3 separate regions of the Homo sapiens genome follow, and all the other regions are linked to region 2. Evidence: fine-mapped expression QTL. A gene starts in region 2. Each other region holds a variant in brackets. All regions are shown on one strand. Distances are between the middles of the regions.

What was found. PIP is the estimated chance that this variant, and not a neighbour inherited with it, causes the effect.
Region 1: its variant is the best candidate, but not a certain one, in a credible set for the expression of TDRD6 in prefrontal cortex (CommonMind, PIP 0.57).
Region 3: its variant is the best candidate, but not a certain one, in a credible set for the expression of TDRD6 in macrophages (Nedelec 2016, PIP 0.87).

What each region holds. Positions count from the first base shown.
Region 1 is chr6:46,658,746-46,663,976 of GRCh38, forward strand. It overlaps SLC25A27 (solute carrier family 25 member 27), which reads left to right. Exons shown (of 9, transcript NM_004277.5): 3 at 217-301; 4 at 3,631-3,753. Among named protein-coding and RNA genes, the nearest start is that of SLC25A27, 8.4 kb to the left of the region's middle. The variant TG/T (reference allele first, on the strand shown) is at 2,639.
Region 2 is chr6:46,685,691-46,690,921 of GRCh38, forward strand. It overlaps TDRD6 (tudor domain containing 6), which reads left to right and starts at 2,195. Exons shown (of 4, transcript NM_001010870.3): 1 at 2,195-5,231. The coding sequence starts at 2,439. It overlaps TDRD6-AS1 (TDRD6 and SLC25A27 antisense RNA 1), which reads right to left and starts at 2,475. Exons shown (of 2, transcript NR_134643.1): 1 at 2,244-2,475.
Region 3 is chr6:46,719,446-46,724,676 of GRCh38, forward strand. PLA2G7 (phospholipase A2 group VII) reads right to left here. Exons shown (of 12, transcript NM_005084.4): 2 at 3,338-3,480. The coding sequence starts at 3,446. Among named protein-coding and RNA genes, the nearest start is that of PLA2G7, 13 kb to the right of the region's middle. The variant T/C (reference allele first, on the strand shown) is at 2,347.

The sequences.
Region 1 (5,231 bases), 27 kb before region 2:
TCAGACAGTGTGTGGGAAGGGCAGAGTCTGAAAAGAGCATGCCCCATTTGGAGAAGCATCAAGAAGCCCACGTGTTAGAAGCACCGGCCCCATGAGACAAAGACACAGCTAGAGAGATTGACTAGGCCATGTCGGAATGTCCTCTTATTTTATACATACATAAGCATATAGATACATATAGCCAAAGTTACCTTTTTAATGATCTTTTTTACCCAGTGTATTCTGGAGGTCGAATGGTCACATATGAACATCTCCGAGAGGTTGTGTTTGGCAAAAGTGAAGATGAGCATTATCCCCTTTGGTAAGTTTTGTTTGGAAAATAATATGCTGTTGCCCCAAATGCCTTAATGTTTATTAGGTTTATGTAAAATTGTACATTTGTACCCAAATTGCCTTAAGTTATGGACTTAAAATAATAATTACAATATAAGTCCAGATAATTGAGCATTTACTGCAGATGTATACAGACATACATGTATATACATATATAAATTGCATATATAGAGATATTTAGTATTTTACTGTTGAAAGAATTCTTATAGAGTACCTTTTTATTCCTCTTTTTATTAAGAACTCTCGGCTTTAGAGTCAGACAGGGATGGGCTCAAATTCCTGCTCTGCTACTGTATAACCTGGACAAACTGCTTCACCTTTTTTATCTTCAGTTTTCACAGCTATAGAAGTAATACAAACCATTAAGTGTTTTTATAGGACACGGTGAGATGATGAATGTAAGTGTATATTATTTAACGGAAACTGAAAAAATCGGTTACTAAAAATAATATACATAGAGCTCCTATAAATAAATAGAAATATAGAAAACACACGCTGGGCGGGGTGGCTCACGCCTGTAATCCCAGCATTTTGGAAGGCCAAGGTGGGCAGATTACCTGAGGTCAGGAGTTCGAGACCAGCCTGGCCAACATGGCAAAACGCTGTCTCTACTAAAAATACAAAAAATTAGCTGGGTTTGGTGGTGGGGGACTGTAATCCAAGCTACACAGGAGGCTGAGGCAGGAGAATCGCTTGAACCCAGGAGGTGGAGGTTGCAGTGAGCCGAGATTGCACTGTTGCATTCCAGCCTGGGTGACAGAGCAAGGCTCTGTCTCAAAAAATATAAAATAAAAATAAAAAATTGCATATATATATATAATTATATATATAAAATTATATAACCTCTCAGCTGGACCACTGCCATCTAACTCGTCTCCTCCTCCATCCTCAAATGTGTACCCGGTATCCAGAGTGATTTATTTGAAACACAGATATTAACACATTATTGGTGTCCTTAAAACTTGTCACTGGCTTCTAATCACCCACAAAATAAAGTGGAGATTTTGGAATGTGACTTAGAAGATCTGCAATATCTGGCCTGTGTCTTCAGAGAACTAAGCAATTCATTGATTCTCTTGGAAAGAGTGGTGCACTAATGAGCTGAAAGATTCCACTGCCTGCACATACCAAACTGTTCTTCACCTCTGTGTCTGTGTGTGTGTGTGTGTGTGTGTATAGAGAGAGAGAGAGAAAGCACAATAGAAAAATAAGGAAAGGATACCAATAGGCAGTTCACAAAAGAAATATACATGTTCATTAAACATAAAAATGTTCAAACTCACCAATAATCAGGGAAATTAATTAAAACTAACTTTAAGCTGTTAGTGGAAATATAAGTTACTATAGTCTTTTTGGAGCATAAATTACTTGTTAACATTTTTGAACGTGTAACCCCTTTGTGATTATAATCATTTATAAATGCTTCTACATATGCATTAAGACAGACACAAAGATATTGACTGTAGCAGTGTTGATGATAGAAAATTATTTTTTTAATTTAAACTATTGATTTGGAAGCAGTTAAGTAGGTTATGATATATTTATGGCATAACACAGCTATTGAAAGCATGAGGTGGGTTTCATATGACTAACATGGAAAGATGCCTATAAAATCTTTCTTAGGGTTAAAAAAATCTAAGTCACAGCTATAAAAAGGGGCAATATGTAGAGTTTCACCTTTCAGGCAACATTTCTTTATCTTGTTTTTGAAAAATTGTAATGTACTAAGCTATACTAATTGCTTTCCCAGAGTCAATTATGGAATAGATTTATAGTCCTTGCGTTTTGGAATTTCTTCCAGAAGGGAAAGGTTTAAGTAAAAAGTGCAAAGGAAATATTATACCAGAACTTTTAGGGTGGATAGGTTTAATGTCCTTTTGACCCAATCAGAACAATTCATTCAGTCAGTAGGTATTTATTGGGTAATTATGGTATGGTATGCCAGTCTTATACTTAATACTGAGGCTATAGTAATGAAAAAGAAACAGTCCTGCCGTCATTCAGCTTACAGTAACAGAGTCGATGAATAAACAATTAGAATTATGTAAAAAATACAGAGAAAAGAGTGGTTATGAGAGATGCAAAGAGAAAAAATATGATAATGTATGTGCTCATCATTGTGTGGAGAAACAGGTATGAGAGATGCAAAGAGAAAAAATATGATAATGTATGTGCTCATCATTGTGTGGAGAAACAGGCATTTTCACAGGTTGTTGGTGGAAGTGCAAATTGATAAAGGTTTTCTGGAAAGCAATTTGACAGGCTCTAGCAAATGTTATGTAAATGTTCAAATTTCTTAAAGTTA[TG/T]TTCGTTAAATAAATTATGGCATATCCATAAAATGAAATACTGTCAAACTATTAAAAAGAATGAGGCTGCTCTATATGACCTGATAGGGATAGCCTTTAAGATATGCTGTTAAGAAAACAGTGCAGAACACTGTACAACTTGACATTCTATGTTAGCGCTTTTACAAAGGAACATTTATACAGATATGCTTGTGTATGCACAAACTGTCAGTCATAACTTAGTGTTTAAGACTGTGGGCTCTGCATGCAGGCTGTCTGGATTCACATCTTGGCTGTCCCACTGATTAGTTGTGTGATTTGAGCTGCCATTCAACTGCTCTATGCTTCAGTTTCCTCATCTGACAGAGAGAATGACAGCACTGTCATGAGGGTTGATATGAGAATGAAATGGTATTTTTAAAATGCTCAGAACAGTGCCTGACATGAGCATTCAGTGAATTCGTTATTATCTCTGGCAAGGGATATAATAAAATAGTAATTGTGATTGCTTCACTGGAGGGGAGCTGGACATAGAGGTCAGAAGGAGACTTTTCTTTTATACCCATTTGTAGCTCTTCAAGTTATTTTAAAGTAAAAGGAAATAAAATGCTTATTTTCCCCAAGAGACTACTGCAGTAATCTGGGTTAAAGTTGACCGGAGTCTAGCCTTTGTCTGTTAGGCTGACTACATCTATGCAGTTTTTATTCCCCTGTAGTTGGAATTAAACTACAATTAAATTATCAATTCAGATGTGTGTATCTTTGAAGCAACTGCTCTTTCCTTTGGATTTCAGGCCATATAAGGCCTGAAATTTTCACTCATTGTACTCCTTTAACCTCCCATCAGTAAACAGTCAAACTGTTTACTTTACTCTGTGACTTACTTGGGTATATCCTTTTCTTTACTTGATCTGAAATCTCTTACCTAGGCCCTGTACCAGCTCAGTATTGGTTCACTATAAAATTCGTGAAATTAATGGCAACTTTAAAAAGAATTTCCTTCTGCAATTAGGAAATCAGTCATTGGAGGGATGATGGCTGGTGTTATTGGCCAGTTTTTAGCCAATCCAACTGACCTAGTGAAGGTTCAGATGCAAATGGAAGGAAAAAGGAAACTGGAAGGAAAACCATTGCGGTAAGTTCTCCAATTAACCAATACCTCTCTTTTTCCCTTGGCCACCGTCATATTTTTAACAAGTACCTAATAGAATTATCATCCAGTATGCAGTAAAGATATTACTTCTGACTTTTTTAATCTGGAAGTTCATTAAGAGGAACACTAAGCTGGATCTTTTCTTTGCACTAGGAAGTGTACATGTTCTATACCAGACAAATTATATATGTGTAATGTTCTTTGCTGCTTTTCCCAGCCAAGGCTAGACTTGTCCCCTACTGCAGGTTAACATAAACAGTTTGATTATTAAAATTTGCCCTGGTGTGAATCTCAATTTTGCCACTGTGGCTTGGTGTTGTGGAAGTCACTTAACATTTCTGGTCTCTTGGGTTTTCATCTTTATAAACTCGCTCAAAAGGCTGTCATGATGGTTAACATGCCTGACTGCTCATTAGTGTGAAAAACCTTGCTTTCATTCCCTTTCTCCTGCAGAAAGAGAGTAGCAAGGATAACGTTGCATATTGTCCCAACTTTCTTGTTGAATCTCATTCCTCCTTCATCTTGAAGCCCTCTTTTTCCCTAATATGGCTTTGGGATATAAAATCCTCCCATTGCATTACACTATATTACTAAAATCCACCTTTCTTCCAAGGGTTTCATGTTCAACAGTTTATTAAAATACCACTTAGTTTCCCCTGGGAAAGGGACAAAATCATGCAGATGGATAGACCTTTCCCAGAAAAAAGGTAATTACAGGATGACTTGAGCTGAGTACAAAGGGAGCTGCTCCTGTGAACACTCCAGGTCTGCAGCTGAGCCAGAGGCAAAGGAGGGTTTGGGGCCATCTTCACCGCTGACCACTGCTGTCTGCCCCTCTTCATGTAGCTGACTCAGTGGAAAAGGAGACTGGGCTGCTGCAGCCCAGGGTCCCCTTCAGCCTTCAAAGCATGTAGAGAATATGCACAGCACAGGAGAAAAGGGTACCACTGTGACTTAACCAAGTAGTTTATAGAACCCCAGGGCCCAGTTTGTCATCTTATAACAACTTCTAATGACTAAATAACAGGGAGAAGTCACACTGCCTTGTTGGATAGGAGGAGAAAACTGGTTATTAGGATCCAGAATATCTGAGTTTTTAACTGATCACTCAGTTTTTTTCCCCTCTTTGTTCTTAATGTTGGAAATTTTTGGATTGAATGCACCTAATGTAGTACACTTTAATAATCAAACTCTTTATATTAACCTGTAATAGGGGACAAGTTATATACTACAGTAAAAAGCATGAACATTGAGATCAGACAGCCTGGGATTCAAAGCCAGTCTTTACCATATTTTAGCTTTGTAATCATAGTCAAGTTCCTTACCCATTTTAAGCCTTGGTTTCTTCGAATGTAAATTAGAATCATATTATATACCTCACAGAATTTTCAGTATTAACATGCATCTCATGTATATTAAATGCTTGGTACTTAGTAAGTGCTCCATAAATTTTAGTTACA
Region 2 (5,231 bases):
ACCACCATGGCATGTGTATACCTATGTAACAAATCTGCACGTTCTGTACATAATGTCCCAGAACTTAAAGTACAATAATAATAAAAAAAAAATCCCCTCTCCCTTCTTTTCCGAAACCAAGGGCCTCTCAAGACTAATGGGAGGAAAGTTTATTTATTATAAAACTCAAGATATTTTGTTTAATATAGTATGGGAGATATATGAGGGGAGCTTAATCTTAACAGTGCAATGACCTGATTTTTAAAATTAACCCGAGTCCCTGTCCAACAGCAGAGCATGACAGAACAAACTAATGCTACCTGCTCCAGATACAGAAAAGGTAGGACATTGGAAAATCTGGGTGGATGGGGGTAAAGGATTCAGATCAGCCCATAACGGCCACGTGATATACCCTGACGTCCTAGGATTAAGGCCATGAGCCATGGAAGGAGGTTGGAGGACAAATGAAATACAGAAAGTCATAATATCTACAACCCTGTGGTCTACAAAGGAGTTTGGTTATACTACATGAACCTGAAATAGATGATGGATTAAAGTCTCCATTATTCCATGTAATGATAAAACAATTTCAAGTGATCATAAGACCATTTTATAATGAATTCCTTCTTTCCACTGTAAAGGCCATAGTGTTAGATTGCTTACTCTTGTTAAGATTTACTGGATGCTAACAGTCCAGCACTGGCTAGGCATCGAGAACATAAAAATAAATGAGAAGTGTTCCTGCTTTTAAGATGTTCCTACTGTGGCAAACAGAGAGCTACAAAATATAATAATATAGAAGTATGTAAAAAAAAAAAAAAAAAGGAATAACCAATTCTGCCAGGTTGAATAGTAGGGTCACGAGGAAACGACGTTTGAGCTAGGTCTTGCTAGATGTTTTTAAATAAAATGTTTTTCTTCCATAATGAATATGAAACAATTAGAAAAAAAATGGGAAAATTGAGTTTTCAAGGATGAGTTCTTCAGGAAAAGAAAAGCTTTGGCTTTTAGAGAAATTGGATTCATTCATTCATTCATTCATATTCATTTAGCAAATATTCATTGCCTTCACTCCAAGCTAGATTCCGAGAATCCAACAAACGGTACTTGCCAAAGGGAACCTGTCGGCTGGTGGGATGATAGAGATCAGACAGTTGCCACACAATGTGAAAAGTGCCGTGAAAAAGTAAGCATAGGGTGATGTGGAAGCACATGGTTGCCTCTAATCTGGACAGACTGAAGACACTGAGATTTACAGTTAGGCCAGGGTCATTTGAAGCACTGCCTTGTTGTATTTGTATGTAATGACATTTCGAAACGTGGAATGAAAGGAAAAGTACAGGCAGACTATAAGAAGCTTCCACGGATGTGTCTAACTTTGCAAATGAACAAAAATCTAATGTAGACATATCCTGGAAACTTCTAGTTTGCCTGCACTTTTCCATTCCAAATGGAGGTTTGGACATTTAACAGAGGCCTCAAAGGGTTATCCTGTTAAGATTTTAGTATATACAGCAGGGGCTTGAAGGAATGTTGATTCCATTCCTCTTGGCCTCCTTTTATGAATCCAGTTCTGTGCTAGCTCTGTGAGTAAATGAAAATGCCTTCAAAATTGGGATGCCAGAGTTAGACAGCAAAGGAGCAAAGGAACCCGTATCAGCTAAGTGTGGGAAGGGAAATATGTACCAGTTGCTATATACTTTCACACGTTATTTTAACCTCATAACAACTCTTATCAATTCAGATGATGGAACAGGGTTAAAGAATAGAGGCTGAGCACCTGGCTGTCCACGGACACACTGAGCCAGCAGGAGCACCCGTGCCCCGCAGCAGCACCCAGGGCCCTCCTAGAGTTCCGGCCTTAACGCCTAGGAACGTGCCATTGGCTCCTGCGTTTCTCGTTCCCGTCGGGAACGCCACTGGCTAGTACCTTGCCTGGCCCCCAGTGCTCAATCCCTGGTAGTTGGGAGGACGAAAAGGAAATCCCTCTCTGGTCGGTCCTCACCGCAGCCCTGTGTCAGGCCGTCACACGGCGGCCTCCAGAGTCGAAGGCGCTCTGAGGAGATGCAGGTTGTGTCCAAAACCTCCCACCTCGGGGTCTCCTGAACGTCCCAACAAGCTCCTTGGGCCCTTAGGCGTTAGGCCAACCCCAGGCCTCGGCTGGCCCCGCCCACTCTCCGCGGCCGGAAGTGGCGGCGCCGAGTGAGGTAAATGCGTGCCCGGAAGCGCGACCTCGGGCGGTTGGAGGGGCTACCGGGTCTTACCAGTCCGTGGCGGGAGTCCCGGAGGACCCTCGACGGGGGAGTTGCCGAGAAAAGGCCTCGCCGGCATTCTTCCCCTCCACTGGGTCCTTTGAACCTAGTTTGGCTGGGACTCGCCTTCAGGCGGCGCGGAGGATTTCGAGGCCCTGAGGCGCGGCCCTTAATTTCCGGAAGTGGGGGCCGCGCCGCGCCGTCAAGATGTGCTCGACGCCCGGAATGCCGGCGCCGGGGGCCTCGCTGGCCCTGCGGGTGTCCTTCGTGGACGTGCATCCCGATGTGATCCCGGTGCAGCTGTGGGGGCTGGTGGGCGAGCGGCGGGGCGAGTACCTGCGGCTGAGCCGGGAAATCCAGGAAGCGGCGGCCACGCGCGGCCAGTGGGCGCTGGGCAGCGCCTCGGCCTCGCCCGGCGAGCTGTGCCTGGTGCAGGTCGGGCTTTTGTGGCACCGCTGCCGCGTGGTCAGCCGGCAGGCACAGGAGAGCCGTGTCTTCCTGCTGGACGAGGGCCGCACCATCACGGCCGGAGCAGGCTCGCTGGCGCCTGGGCGCAGAGAGTTCTTCAATTTGCCCTCGGAAGTGCTGGGCTGCGTGCTAGCGGGCCTGGTGCCGGCAGGCTGCGGCGCGGGCTCAGGCGAGCCGCCGCAGCACTGGCCCGCCGACGCCGTGGACTTCCTTAGCAACCTTCAGGGCAAGGAGGTGCACGGGTGCGTCCTGGACGTGCTGCTGCTCCATCGCCTGGTCCTCCTGGAGGTGCCTGATGTGTTCCAACAGATGCGGGAGCTGGGCCTGGCTCGGCGGGTGCCCGACAGCCTCTTCCGTTCGCTGCTGGAGCGCTATCTCACAGCGGCCACTGCTAGCGTGGGCTCCGGGGTCCCGGTTCTCTCGCGAGTCCCGCTCAAGCAAAAGCAGCCTGGTCTGGATTACTTCTATCCCCAGCTGCAGCTGGGCGTGACGGAGGCCGTGGTCATAACCCAAGTGTGCCATCCCCACCGCATTCACTGCCAGCTCCGCAGCGTCTCGCAGGAGATCCACCGCCTCTCCGAGAGCATGGCCCAGGTATACCGGGGTTCCACGGGGACAGGGGATGAGAACTCTACCAGTGCCACCTGGGAGGAGAGGGAGGAGAGCCCAGATAAGCCGGGCTCTCCGTGTGCATCCTGTGGCCTGGATGGACATTGGTACAGAGCACTGTTGCTTGAGACTTTTCGGCCCCAGCGCTGTGCCCAGGTGCTTCATGTGGACTATGGAAGGAAGGAGTTAGTGAGTTGCAGCAGCCTTCGGTACTTGCTGCCTGAATATTTTCGAATGCCGGTGGTGACCTACCCTTGTGCTTTGTATGGACTCTGGGACGGTGGGAGAGGCTGGTCTCGGTCACAGGTCGGTGACCTGAAGACACTGATACTAGGCAAGGCAGTGAATGCAAAGATTGAATTTTATTGCTCCTTTGAGCATGTGTATTATGTCAGCCTGTATGGAGAAGATGGGATTAATCTGAACCGTGTGTTTGGAGTACAGTCGTGTTGCTTGGCTGACCGAGTCCTTCAGAGCCAGGCAACAGAGGAGGAGGAACCAGAAACATCTCAGTCTCAGTCTCCTGCTGAAGAAGTAGATGAAGAGATTTCACTCCCAGCCTTAAGATCTATCAGGTTAAAGATGAATGCCTTCTACGATGCGCAGGTAGAGTTTGTTAAAAATCCTTCTGAGTTTTGGATTAGGTTGAGGAAACACAATGTCACCTTCAGTAAGCTGATGAGGAGAATGTGTGGTTTCTATTCCTCTGCCAGTAAGCTGGATGGTGTAGTTTTGAAACCTGAACCTGATGACCTTTGCTGTGTCAAGTGGAAAGAAAATGGTTATTATAGGGCCATAGTCACCAAATTGGATGACAAGAGTGTGGATGTATTCTTAGTTGACCGAGGCAATTCGGAAAATGTGGACTGGTATGACGTAAGGATGCTGCTTCCTCAGTTTAGGCAGCTACCAATATTGGCTGTGAAGTGCACCCTGGCTGATATTTGGCCTTTGGGAAAAACTTGGAGCCAGGAGGCAGTTTCCTTTTTTAAAAAGACTGTGCTCCACAAAGAATTAGTCATCCATATTCTTGATAAACAGGATCATCAATATGTTATTGAGATTCTTGACGAATCAAGAACAGGGGAAGAAAACATTAGTAAGGTAATTGCCCAAGCTGGATATGCCAAGTATCAGGAATTTGAAACAAAGGAAAATATCCTGGTAAATGCCCACTCCCCAGGGCATGTTTCAAACCACTTTACTACGGAGAGTAACAAAATACCTTTTGCCAAGACTGGAGAAGGAGAGCAGAAAGCCAAGAGAGAGAATAAAACCACATCTGTTTCAAAAGCTTTGAGTGACACAACAGTTGTAACAAATGGTTCAACTGAACTAGTTGTGCAGGAAAAAGTGAAAAGAGCATCTGTTTATTTTCCTCTTATGCAGAATTGCTTGGAAATTAAGCCAGGCTCCTCTAGTAAAGGAGAGCTGGAAGTTGGAAGTACAGTAGAAGTCAGAGTGTCTTATGTTGAAAACCCTGGCTATTTCTGGTGTCAGCTGACCAGGAACATACAAGGACTTAAAACTCTAATGTCTGATATTCAGTACTATTGCAAAAATACAGCTGCTCCTCACCAGAGAAACACCCTTGCTTGTTTGGCTAAGCGAACAGTAAACAGACAGTGGTCCAGAGCACTTATTAGTGGGATACAGTCTGTGGAGCATGTCAATGTAACATTTGTAGATTATGGAGACAGAGAAATGGTATCTGTGAAGAATATTTATTCAATTAGTGAAGAATTTCTGAAGGTTAAGGCACAGGCTTTTAGGTGCAGTCTTTATAATTTAATTCAACCAGTTGGCCAGAATCCCTTTGTTTGGGATGTAAAGGCAATACAAGCTTTCAATGAATTTATAGATAATGCATGGCAAAAAAATCTAGAATTAAAATGTACAATATTTGCTCTGGCTTCAATTAAT
Region 3 (5,231 bases), 34 kb after region 2:
AAAAGGAGTGCCCATTAAAGTTTAAGAGACACTGGGCTGAAGTTCCAGACCACCTGCCTGACACACAGGTCAGCAATCCATGGTCAAATGGTAGGAGGTAGTTTCAAGAAAGGCAAGGGGAGAGGGGATGGAGATGAACAAACCCTGTGAATTGGAGGGACATGGTTCTATTTCAGATTTCAGGTGTACCTCTTACAAGCTATAATCCTCTGGCCTAGTTGCTCCCCTCTCTGATCCACATTCGTAAAATGACATAAAAGCACTTGACCAGCCCACAGTACAGTTGTAAAGATGAGGTGAGAATGTAGGTCAAGTTCTTAGTACAAAACATGACACATAAGGGGTAGACAAATAATGCTGTTTACTCCTTCCCCAGAGTCCATTTACTCTTGCTAGGTAAATCTGTGCTGAGTCCTTAGGGAAGTTTTAGCAGGTCTAACCTCTCCCCAGGTAGATTCAAACCCCAGAAACTTTTTTTTTAAACTTTACCTGCAAGGTGAACTTTCAGGGTCTATTTTGAATTACAAAAGGCTCTTCTTCCATTAAAAGAGTATCTACTGAGCCATGCTTCTGGTGTAACAGGGAGATGTGAAGTCCCAAGGAGGAGGACCTTAAGGTAGGGACACCTGCTTCTTCTTCTGTGGTAAGCAGCCTGGTGCTACTGCAACCCCACCCCTAGGCAGGCATGGTGTGCCTGTGCAGGGCTTGCTGCAGGGAGACCTCTGGCTCACACAACTCGCTAAGGAGCCCCAGGGCCACAGCTGCTGTTGGAGACACTACCTCTAGAATTGGAGGCTCAGTTCTGGAGGCATGGGAGGGTTTCACCCAACACAAGCCTCCGCTTGTGAGATCTCAATTCCAAAGGACAGGGGAACATTTTCCAATAAGTTAGGAGTGCCCTGGTTGTCCAACACCTGTTCTCCCTGGGAAGTTTCCTCACTCAGCATTCAGGAGCATTCAGGTCAAGGTGAGGTCTGCCTGTTCCAGGACACCTGACCTCTGAGAAGACCTCAGGAATCATCAGGCTGATCCAGGTTTTGGTATAGGTCTATGGGGTCCTATGCACCAGTGCCAGGGTGCCTGGGGGTGGCTGTGGAACAGGCTCCATAGCCTACAGCTGACCCGGTTATGGGCCTGGATTTCCCATTCTCTAACCATCTGTCAGGAGTCATCATTAAGGAAGTGGAAGGAGGAGACTCATCAGATCAAATGACCACTCACACAGTTTTGTGGTTCAGAATTTATAAATGTCTCTTCTTAGTTTTCTTCAACTTTATTTTAATAGGAGGATTGGAACCTATGGCATGCTATTAATTTTATTACATATTTTTGGTGGTTTTCATTTGTCAAATATTCCTGATGTTCAGTCTTGGGTTTGGAGATGAACTGTATACATGCTAGGACAATTACACTCTTATATGGCTTTATGTCCTCCATTAGTAAAGAGGATATCTCTAGCCCATTCCTACAAACCTTTTAACCTGCATAGCCATATTTTCTGTGTATTCATTTAGTAAGAAATTATAAAGAATCACCTATTATTTTAATCTTATTTAATAAACTGTTTCTAATACTTTAAACCAATATATATGCATTCTTTTTTTGTTTGTTTTGAGACAGAGTCTCGCTCTGTAGCCCAGGCTGGAGTGCAGTGGTGCAATCTCAGCTTACTGCAACCTCCTTCTTCTGGGTTCAAGCAATTCTCCTGCCTCAGTCTCCCAAGTAGCTAGGACTACAGGTGTGCACCACCACACCCAGCTAATTTTATGTATTTTTTTTTTTAATATAGACGGGGTTTCACCATGTTGGCCAGGCTGGTCTCGAACTCCTGACCTCAAGTGATCCACCCACCTCGGCCTCCCAAAGTGCTCAGATTACAGGCACGAGCCACCATGCCCGGCCTGCATTCATTTTTGAACATTTAGAATGGGCATTGCATTGGGCTCAATGCTGGGACTATAAAGATAAAGCAACGTCCCTGTCCTCAAGTTTCTGTCAGTCCAGCAACAGCCTTCCAATTATTTTTAAAGACAAAGGGATTTTAAAAATGTTTAAATTTTTACCCTGTACCAATTAAAAGTGAAGGATATAAATGTTTCCCGAATGATGATTTTCCCACCATCTAAGATATTACCTGTTCTCAATCCATGAAAAAGGTAGTAGGAAAAATGAACTTAATGTCATCTAGGATGCAGGACCCTTGAATTTGACTACACATTTATTGTCTTAGTCACCAGTGTATCCTTGATGACTTAACTTCCTGATGCGTTATAGGATGAATGGACCTGTGAGATATTATTCTATTTCCTATGCAAATGTAGATATAAGATATAAAACCTCTCCTAA[T/C]GCATTCATTTTCCTGCTTATGTAGTAGGGCAAAATTTAAGGTACTGAATTATGAAAGCTCTTTTGCAAATGCTATCGTAAGGAGTCACCCATCAAGCTTGAACAATTAGATCCAGAGTGACCCACAACTATCCAGGTGCACAGCTCTGTAGGTATAGTCAGTATGACACCATTCAGAAGCCACCTACACTGCTCTCCATAGGAGACTGGAAAGAGAAGTTTATGCATCACAATCCTCTGGGATGAGCAGGAATTTGCAAAGCTCCAGAAACAATCTTTTTCCAATTAAGGTCTCTCTTAGTGACATTAAATGTAGCCGTCTAAAGATGGCTGTCCCGTTTTGGCCACTCCTCCTGGGTTAGTCTATGCCTTCCACCTCTTTCTTTCCCCACTTACCACAAGGCAAGAAAGAATGAGTGATCACATCCATTCTCATCTGGAACTCCCTAGCACCTACTTGTCCCTACTTCTCTCTATTATCAGGTAGGAAAGATTGTTTCCTTTTGGATCCCAAGACCTGAAATTGTTATCTCACATGACTTTCCACTATTAACCAGGAGTATGCCTGTTGAACAAGACACCTGCTTCTTTTTCACCTCATGGAAGCAGGTTTTGAGGCTGTCTTGGAGTGGACTCCAGACCAGTTGCATTACTATGCTTGTGTGGGCATGCGTTAGGGCAGTCAGAGAGAGAAGGGGTGGCATTAAGGAGGTTCTCCGTGGTGATTGCAAGCTGAGCGTCCAGTATATCTTAAAATGTCCCATCCTGGTTCTGTCCTGCAGTCCTGATACTGAAGAACACAAGTGCTTCTTCAATTTCAGTTGAAATGAGGAAAAAGTGAGAACCTCTCCCCTACTCCAGGAGAATACAGGATCTCCATAAGCCTTTAAATAGGACTTGTTTAGATGTGCAGATGTGCAACTTCTTGGGGCCCACTTGAAGTATGGCGACAGATCAGTTGCTCAAGACCTTGAACAAATACACCTCTTACCTGATGATTTCATATGGGCAACAGGATTTATGTATTGCCAGTCAAAAGGATAAACCACAGCCAGGCAGCCGCAGAGGCAGAAAAGCACATGCAATTTGGGTGGCACCATCTTGGGAGCTGAGCAGCAGTTTCAGCTTAGTCTCCTTCGAAGCAGATGATTAAAAGAAAAAAGAAGTATGCAATGAAGAGGCCTTAAATAAGCTGACAAATCAAGAAAGGCTGAGGTACTAGTAACACTTGGAAAAAATAAAACATGTATTTTCTGTGCTGGGTTTTAGATTGGTACTACAATGGTAAAATCCTTGGTAATGTAGGATTACCATTACCTACATTACTAAGGATTACATTGGATTGTAGAGCAGAGAAATAATACTTTCAGACAGTTAGATTAAGTTTTTGGTCACTAGTTTTCTAACTTTATAACAGTATGGTCAGCTATAAAAATAGCCAACAAAATATAACAAATATAACAACCATCTGTCATCATCATAATAATATCCATAGGTATGTCTAGCACATAGTAAATAATTCATAAATTTTGGCTATTTCCATCATTTAATTATATAGTGACTATATTTCTGCTGCTGTGGTTGTTTTGGGTGTTAATATGATGTTATATTCTTGCTAATTTCTATAATCCTACTATGATATAAGTTTCCAAAAAGCAGAAGTCAGGTCTTATTTGTTGTCTCAGTGCCTAATAGAGGGCCTGGAAGAAGTAGTATTGCATAGATGCTTGTTGAATCAGTAAATGAAACAAGAGAATATGAGATGTGTGGTAATAATAAATTATAATTAGTCTGTATGCTAACATCTTATTAGCAAAAACTATCTTGCATTTGTGCATCCATTTTCCCCCCTAAAATTTGGCCCTTCAACTTTTGTGGGGGATAGAAAAGGTCCAAGCCACCATCATCTCTTACCTAAAATTTGCCATCACCTCTAACGAGTCTCCCTGCTTTTGCCCTTGACCCTAAAATCTATCCCCAACACAGCAGCCAGAGTGATTGTGTCACCCTTCTGCACAAAACCCCCAAATGGTGTTATATGTTACGGGGGAGAAGCCATTCACCCAAAATAGCTTATAATGATCTACATAACCTTTACTCAACACACTCCCAATCCTTCCCCTAGCCCCTCTTGGACACCTGCTGCAATCACACTTGCTTCTTTGCCATTCACCAAACATGCCAAGTACTCCACACCCACCTTCCATCCCCACTTTGAGGGCTTTGAATGTGTTCCCTTTTATGGGAATGCTCTTTGCTCTGACACCCAAATGACTGGTCCTCTCACCTCCGGGTTTTTGCTCCAGTGATACTTTCTCAGTGACACTTTCCCGGTTCAATCTATTTAAAATTGCAATCTAACCTCCTTCTTCACACCAATACATTCCCTATTTCCCTCCCTACTTTATTTTTCTCCAATATTTATCACCAACTAACGTACCTTGTATGTTATTTGTTAGTTGTTTATCACCTTCCACTAAAAACTTAGTTCTGTGAGTGTAAGGATTTTTGATGGTTTTTCCCCCTGCTGTATTCCCAAGACCTAGAATAGTGCCTGGTGTACAGAGGCACTCAGTAAATGCCTGCTGAGTGAATAAATCTAGCACATCTGGTTACTAATACAAACCGAGCCAAGTTTAATGATCCGGTGTCCCACTGACACTAATGAAGCACTCGTTAGTATAGCTATTTTGCGGGAAGATGTAATATAGATGTGTGGCACAGACAATGAGTGCTCCTGAACATCTATGTGCTTCCCTACATTTCTTAGCCGCCCCTGTGGTTGGGCTGGGCCCATGGGGCTAATTCCTGAGAAACAAAAATTTGAACAGAAGTCGTCTGCAACAGAGTCACTGTATCTCCTTCATGCCTTCCTTTCCCTGACA